Homo sapiens: one gene and its partner. Changing the gene in region 1 together with any one later gene gives a genetic interaction. Each region holds a gene or a part of one and is shown in the gene's direction. Other genes may lie near its edges.

Region 1 (3,651 bases):
AAACACAGAAATAACTGGGGTGCACCTAATTTAGAATGGGGGTGTCAGGTACGATGTCAGATGCTCATGAACCTTGTCCCATGGCATTGTCTTCCCAACAGCCAGCAGAGTGTTTGTTGCATGAATGAAGAAGGAATGCTTGGATGAGGGCTTGCCCTCTTTCTTGCTGTAGAAAGTGAGATTTGGTGCCCAAGATCACACAAGCTGGCAAGTGAAAGTGCTGGGGTTGGACCTGGGGTCCCCTGAGTAGCTTCTGTTTTGTATGCAGCTGGCCTGCTACTCCCTTGGCACCATCGGGGAAATTTCCACATTCACAGTGAATATTATTTCAGCCTCTGCTGTCCTCCTCTCTCCTCTTGACCGCTCACATGCTGCCTGTCACTGTGTGACTGTCTCAGAGCTGAATGAGTGTTACCAGTGGAAGGTGTCCAGGTTCTTGGCACCTCAAAGAGTTGGACAAAATGCACAAACAAAGCAAGGAAAGAATGAAGCAGCAAAAGGAGAGATTTATTGAAAATGAAAGTACACTCCACAGTGTGGGAGTGAGCTGGAGCATAGGGGCTCAAGGGCTCCTTTACAGAATTTTTTAGGGTTTAAATACCTTCTAGAAGTGTCCCGTTGGTTACTTGGTGTACACGCTATGTAAATGAAGTGGTGGCTCGCAATCAGTCTGATTGGTTGCTGAAGTGAAGTTACAAAGTTACACTTCTATGCAAACGTCTGTTTGGTTGTAAAAATCAAACCAATCAGAGACACTTTCAGTTTTCCATCTGCCTCACAGAAAAAGCGGAGAGTGGTTTGTGAAGGGAGTAACCTCCGGTCCTTTTGTTACTTAGGTGTGGAAAGTTGGGGTTTTCCTTTTGATTTAGTTCTAGGAAGTCAGCCTGAATTAGTCTTAGGTTCCCTGCCTCCAGACCCTGTTCTCCTGCCTCAAGAGGACTGCCTTTCATTTCTAGATCAAAGGAATCTTGGCTTGGCTTGGTTGTTCTTTGAGGCATGATTTTTACTCTCTTGAACACTTGTCATTTTCTTGATTCCTGATTATTTTCCTCTTTCCTGCGTTCAGTTCAGTTCAGCTAATACTGGACATGGCACTTTATCAGGTGCTTCTAAAAATGTAAGGAGGAACAACGTTTGAGCCCTGGCCTCCTGGAAGTTTTAATTTGTAAGGGGTGACAGATATACGCACAAGGAACTATATACAAGGTAGGATTCAGACTGCTGATGGGGCCTGATGGCTTTCTGGAAGAAGTAGCATTTGATGGTGACTTCAGATGATCTGGGATTTCAGTGGTGGCCCAGGAAGAGAATGCAAAAGAAACAACATGAGCAGGCTGAGCACGGTGGCTCACGCCTGTAATCCCAGCACTTCGGGAGGCCGAGGCGAGTGGATCATCTGAGGTTGGGAGTTCAAGACCAGCCTGACCAACATGGAGAAACCCCGTCTCCACTAAAAATACGAAATTAGCCTGGGGTGGTGGAGCGTGCCTGTAATCCCAGCTACTCGGGAGGCTGAGACAGGAGAATTGCTTGAACCCAGGAGGTGGAGGTTGCAGTGAGCCGAGATCGGGCCATTGCACTCCAGCTTGGGCAACAAGAGCGAAACTCCATCTCAAAAAAAAAAAAAAAAAAAGAAACAACATGAGCAAATATTTGCAGCAAATCAATAAATGGTCCTTTTAGACTGAAACTTGGTATAGCAGTTTAGGATTAGTGAGAGCTAGGACCAGAAAGCTAGGTTGGCTGCCACCTTGGAGTGAGAACCTCGAATGCCAAGGTGGGCAGCTTATGCTGGTGTAGTAGAGTTCCATTTTAGTAACACAGTCATCTCTTACAGAACTTTCCTCTCCAGAGGATGAGGTATCAGGTTGTTCAGCTTTGAGTGTGCCATCTAGGTGCTATCAGCTAGCACCTTCAGGCTCTAATCTGCTCCTGGTTGGTTTAATAACAGAAAAATCTGCCAACCTCAGGAGTTTTTTGTTTGTTTTTTTTAACCAAGAATAACTTTCTTCCATGAAACTGCCCCTAAGAGAAAGTGTTACATTGTTTTCTGAATCTATATGGATGAGAAACAATTGTCTGTTATAGGAATGAGCTTCAAACAGATGGAGGAAATTATTATTTTTCTGTTAGGCCTTGTGTCCCGAAACCGCCCTGAGGAGGAGGACCAGTATTGGCTGAGTATGGGCAGAACGTTCCACAAAGTGACGCTGAAGGATAAGATGATCACAGTGACGCGATACCTTCCCAAGTGAGTATTTGGATATTTAAAGTCTTCAGTTATTGTCCTGAATTATGGCCACATACTAAATTGTGTGTATAGTACATCATTCAAACTGAGGAAGTTCAGTGGTTGGTTTTTCTTTTGGAGTTTTGTTTGTTTGTTTCTAGGGTTATTTTAGGGTTATAGCTTACCTACTTCCAAAAGGGATTTGATTCATCTTATAATGTTTAGCATGATTCATGACAAGCCTATTTCAAATAAAGATTGTGAGGAGAGAAGAAGGAAAGAGTTTAAGAAGATCTGAGAAATTTCTAGTACCGTTCCCTGGGATAAGTTGGTTACTACAGTTGAGGGGTAAATGTCAAGGATGGTTCTAAGTGTATAGAGATAGAAAATAAGAATTGGCAGGAATTTGTCTCTAACTCTTTTGAATTTGGGGACCTGCCCTTTATTTTGCAGGTATCCTTATGAATCTGCCCAGATCCACTACACCTACAGCCTCTGTCCTTCCCACTCAGACTCAGAGTTCGTCTCCTGCTGGGTGGAATTCTCCCACGAACGGCTGGAGGAGTACAAGTGGAATTACTTAGATCAGTATATCTGTTCTGCCGGCTCTGAAGACTTCAGGTCAGAGAGTGGGCTTTGGATTTCCATCTTTGCATCCTTGGGCAAGGATGTGTATGTGTATTTTAACACTTTCTGCCCTTTCTCTCTCTCTCCCTTTTTCTTTTTTTTTTTCTTTGTAAAGAGACAGGGTTGACTGGGCGCGGTGGCTCATGCCTGTAATCCCAGCAATTTGGGAGGCCGAGGTTGGCAGATCACCTGAGGTCAGGAGTTCGAGACCAGCCTGGCCAGCATGGCAAAATCCTGTCTCTACTAAAAATACAAAAATTAGCTGGGTGTGGTGGTGCGTGCCTGTAATCCCAACTACTTGGGAGACTGAGGCTGGAGAATCGCTTGAACCCAGGAGGTGGAGGTTGCAGTGAGCCAAGATCAAGCCATTGCACTCCAGCCTGGGCAACAAGAGTGAAACTGTCTCAAAAAATAAATAAATAAAAAAAAATAAAATTAACTGGGCATGGTGACATACCCCTATAGTCCTAGCTACTCAGGAGGCCGAAGTGCTTGAGCCCAGGAGGTCGTGGCTACAGTGAGCCTTGATAGTGCCACTGCACCCTAGCCTGGGCAACACAGCAAGACCTTGTCTCAAAAAAATAAAATAGGTTAATGTGATAAATTTTTTGTTATGTGTATTTTGCCACAGTTGAAAAAACAAACCCCATGAAGCTCAGGGATGACGTGCCCTTGATGCAAGTGGCAGTGCAGATTGCCTTCTTAACGTTCTCTCCACTAGTTGGCTGGTAGCTTTGTGACGCCTGATTTTTAATTTTTGATTTCTATGCATGATTTGTGATTGTGATGATAGC
Region 2 (3,651 bases), on another chromosome or scaffold:
TACTGCACCTGGACATTTTTTTTTTTTTTTTTAACTTGAAAGAACAGCTAACAGACAGATTAGAACAGAATTGGCTATTTGACAGATTTTCTCAGATGAACTGTGATAGTCATTTCAAGGGAAGTAGCTGCAAGCATTTGTTGGCTGAAATAAAATTTAAGTTTATCATGGAAAATTAGAATTTGAAAAAACTTAGAGTTTACCACTTGACAGTATCCTAAATACATATGACTTTTCTGATGAGTGCCGATATTAATGAAGGTTATTTAAAAAATATTAAATAATGTATAATTCTTTTTATATAACAGTTAAAAATAAAACCATGAGTACTAGAATAAAACATAGGTGGCTCTTTAATCTTGGTTTGTGAAGGTATTTTTTAAAATAAGAAAAAAGCAAGAAATCACTGCTAAATTTGACTATTAAAATTAATTTATCACAGGCACAAAAATGTTAGAAAACTAATGGCAATAGCAAATATATATATATGAGGATTGGTATTCTCAACATATAAAGCACATTTGCACATCAACAAGAAAAGAATATTTCTCCTAATGGAAATAGTGGCAAATACATGAGCAGTCAGTTGAAAAAAGAAGTAATACAAATTGCTGGCTGGGTGTGGTGGGTCACGCCTGTAATCCCAGCATTTAGAGGCTGAGGCTGGCGGATCATCTGAGGTCAGGAGTTCGAGACCAGCCTGACCAACATGGAGAAACCCTGTCTCTACTAAAAATACAAAATTAGCCGGATGTGGTGGCGCATGCCTGTAATCCCAGCTACTTGGGAGGCTGAGGCAGGAGAATTGCTTGAACCCAGGAGGCGGAGGTTGTGGTGAGTCGAGATCGCACCATTGCACTCCAGCCTGGGCAACAAGAGCGAAACTCCATCTCAAAAAAAAAAAAAAAAAAAAAAAAGGAAGTAATACAAATTGCCAATAAATATGGAAAAAAAAAAAGGCTCAACTTTATTTGTAATTAAAGGCCTTTAAGTTAAACTTAGGTGTCATTTAATTTTTATTAAATTGGCAAATATTAAAATTAAGCATAATTCTTAAGCAACTCTCGGTAGGTGGGAAGAATCTAGCTGTAGCCTCAGGCGTTTGTGCCTCAAGGAAAACCCTCTCTGGGATGTCCATTGCTTGAAGTCAAAGGTTTTCCAATAATACCTGGAAACTATTTTTAAAATGCTGATCCCCATACCCTCAAAATATTAATAGAGACAATCGTGAGGACTATAATAAAGAAATGTGCAATAAGCTCTGGGGGCACAGAGGGAAGAATCTATTGGCTGAGGAGTTGAAGAAATTGTTTGGACACTCAGTATTGCCTGAGCTCAAAACTGAAGGATGAATAAATGCCACATGACCTTGGGGCTGGGGAGTAAGTAGGGTTATGCAGAGAGAGATAACTGAGGCTTTTGGGCAGACGAATAGTAACGGCTCAGGCATGGGAGTAAAGGTCATTTAGAGATTTACAAGAATTCAGCATTTCTTTCTTTTTCTTTTTTTTTTTGAGATGGAGTCTAGCTCTGTCATCCAGGCTGGAGTACAGTGGCATGATCTCAGCTCACTATAACTCCCACCTCCCGGGTTCAAGTGATTCTCATGCCTCAGCCTCCCGAGTAGCTGGTATTACAGGCGTGTACTACTGTGCCTGGCTAATTTTTGTATTTTTAGTAGAGATGGGGTTTCACCATGTTGGTCAGGCTGGTCTCCAACTCCTGAGCTCAAGTGATATGTGCACCTCTGCTCCCCAAAGTGCTGGGATTACAGGCGTGAGCCACTGTACCCGGCCAAGAATTCAGTATTTCTATCCAAGTACCTGGGGGATAGATGTGCTACATGAATATTTATTGCATTCATTTTGTTCTCTGCATTTTTTTTTTTTTTTTTTTGGTTTGAGATGGAGTCTCGCTCTGTCGCCCAGGCTGGAGTGCAGTCGTGCAATCTCGGCTCACTGCAGCCTCCACCTCATGGGTTCAAGCGATTCTCCATCTTGGTCTCCTGACTAGCTAGGTTTACAGGCGTGTGCCATCACACCCACTAATTTTTTGTATTTTTAGTAGAGACAGGGTTTCACCATGTTGGCCAGGCTGGTCTTGAACTCCTGATCTAAAGTGAGCCTCCCACCTTGGCCTCCCAAAGTGCTGGGATTACATATGTGAGCCACTGCGCCTGGCCTCTATATACTTCTATAGTACCTGATACTTATTAGGCACTCAATTACAACATAACTTTTTTTTTTTTTTTTTTTTTTTGAGACAGAGACATGCCTTGTCGCCTGGGCTGGAGTGCAGTGGCACAGTCTCGGCTCACTGCAACCTTCACCTCCCGGGTTCAAGTGATTCTCCTTCCTCAGCCTCCCGGGTAGCTGGGATTACAGGCGCCCGCCACCACGTCCAGCTAATTTTTTGTATTTTTAATAGAGATGAGGTTTCACCATCTTGGCCAGGCTGATCTCAAACTCCTGACCTTGTGATCCACTCACCTTGGCCTCCCAAAGTGCTGGTATTACAGGTGTGAGCCATCATGCCCGGCCCATATTTCTAAAAACATTTTCTTATAAAATGACATTGCCATTATCAACCTGCAAAATACAGTTTCCATTTGGTTGTTTTCTTGCTTAGTCTTTTAATCTAGAGTTTTATACCTTATCTTTTTTATTTATATATTTTTTATGTCATTGACTTTTTGCAGAAACTGAAGCACTTGTCCTGTAGATTGTCCAATATTCTAGATTTGTCATTTTGCTTCCTTGTGATGTCCTTATGCTTATTTGTTTGTCCCTCTTTCTGTAATTAGAAGACCTAGAACTGCACTATCCTTAGAGTAGCTACTAGCTCTATGTAGCTATTTAAATTTAAATTAATTAAAATTGAAAAAGTTTGGTGGCTCACACCTGTAATCCCAGCACTTTGGGAGGCCAAGGTGGGAGGATTGCTTGAGTGCAGGAGTTCAAGGCTTCAGTAAGCTACGATTGTACTCTAGCCTGGGAGACATCAAGACCCTGTCCCTTTAAGGGGGAAAAATAATTGAAAAAATCAAAAACTTAGTTTCTTGTTTCACAAGCTGCATAGGGCTAATGGCTACCATATTGGCTAGCACAGCTTATAGAACCTTTCCATTGTCACAGGAAGTTCTGTTTGGCAGTGCCGTTCTCATTAGACCTGATTCGATTAAGGTCCATCTTTGTTGACAGAGTACTTCTTAGGTGGTGCTTTGTGGTTCATATGATGATAGCCTGGTCTGTTCATTCATATATCTTTTCACGAGAAATATTTTTATTCCATTCTGAATAAAATTTCATGGCAGGTACTTGCAAGAAGCAGTTATAATTTTAAAAGTTTAACATTAGGTTAAAAAATTGACAGGAAACATATATTCACAGGAAAACTTGTACACAAATGTTCATGGCAGCATTATTCATAATAGCCAAGAAGTGGAAACAACCCAAATCAATTTATGAATGGATAAAATGTTGTATATTTGTAGTACATGTAATATTATTCAGCCAATAAAATGGGCCAGGCATGGTGGCTCACACCTGTAATCCCAGCACTTTGAGAGGCTCAGGCAGGGGGATCACTAGAGGTCAGGAGTTTGAGACCAGCCTGACCATCATCACGAAACCCTGTCTCTACTAAACGTAC

The links. A genetic interaction does not mean that the proteins touch.
Region 2: changes in DEPDC5 (region 1) and RAB1A together harm fitness more than expected from each alone (negative genetic interaction), as found in Homo sapiens cells (one large-scale study listed by BioGRID).

Annotation. Positions count from the first base shown.
Region 1 is NC_000022.11:31,840,962-31,844,612, forward strand, and holds part of DEPDC5 (GATOR1 complex protein DEPDC5), read left to right. Parts: intron 1-2,133; coding exon 2,134-2,251; intron 2,252-2,683; coding exon 2,684-2,851; intron 2,852-3,651. UniProt on the Homo sapiens protein: As a component of the GATOR1 complex functions as an inhibitor of the amino acid-sensing branch of the mTORC1 pathway.
Region 2 is NC_000002.12:65,099,009-65,102,659, reverse strand, and holds part of RAB1A (ras-related protein Rab-1A), read left to right. Parts: intron 1-3,651. UniProt on the Homo sapiens protein: The small GTPases Rab are key regulators of intracellular membrane trafficking, from the formation of transport vesicles to their fusion with membranes.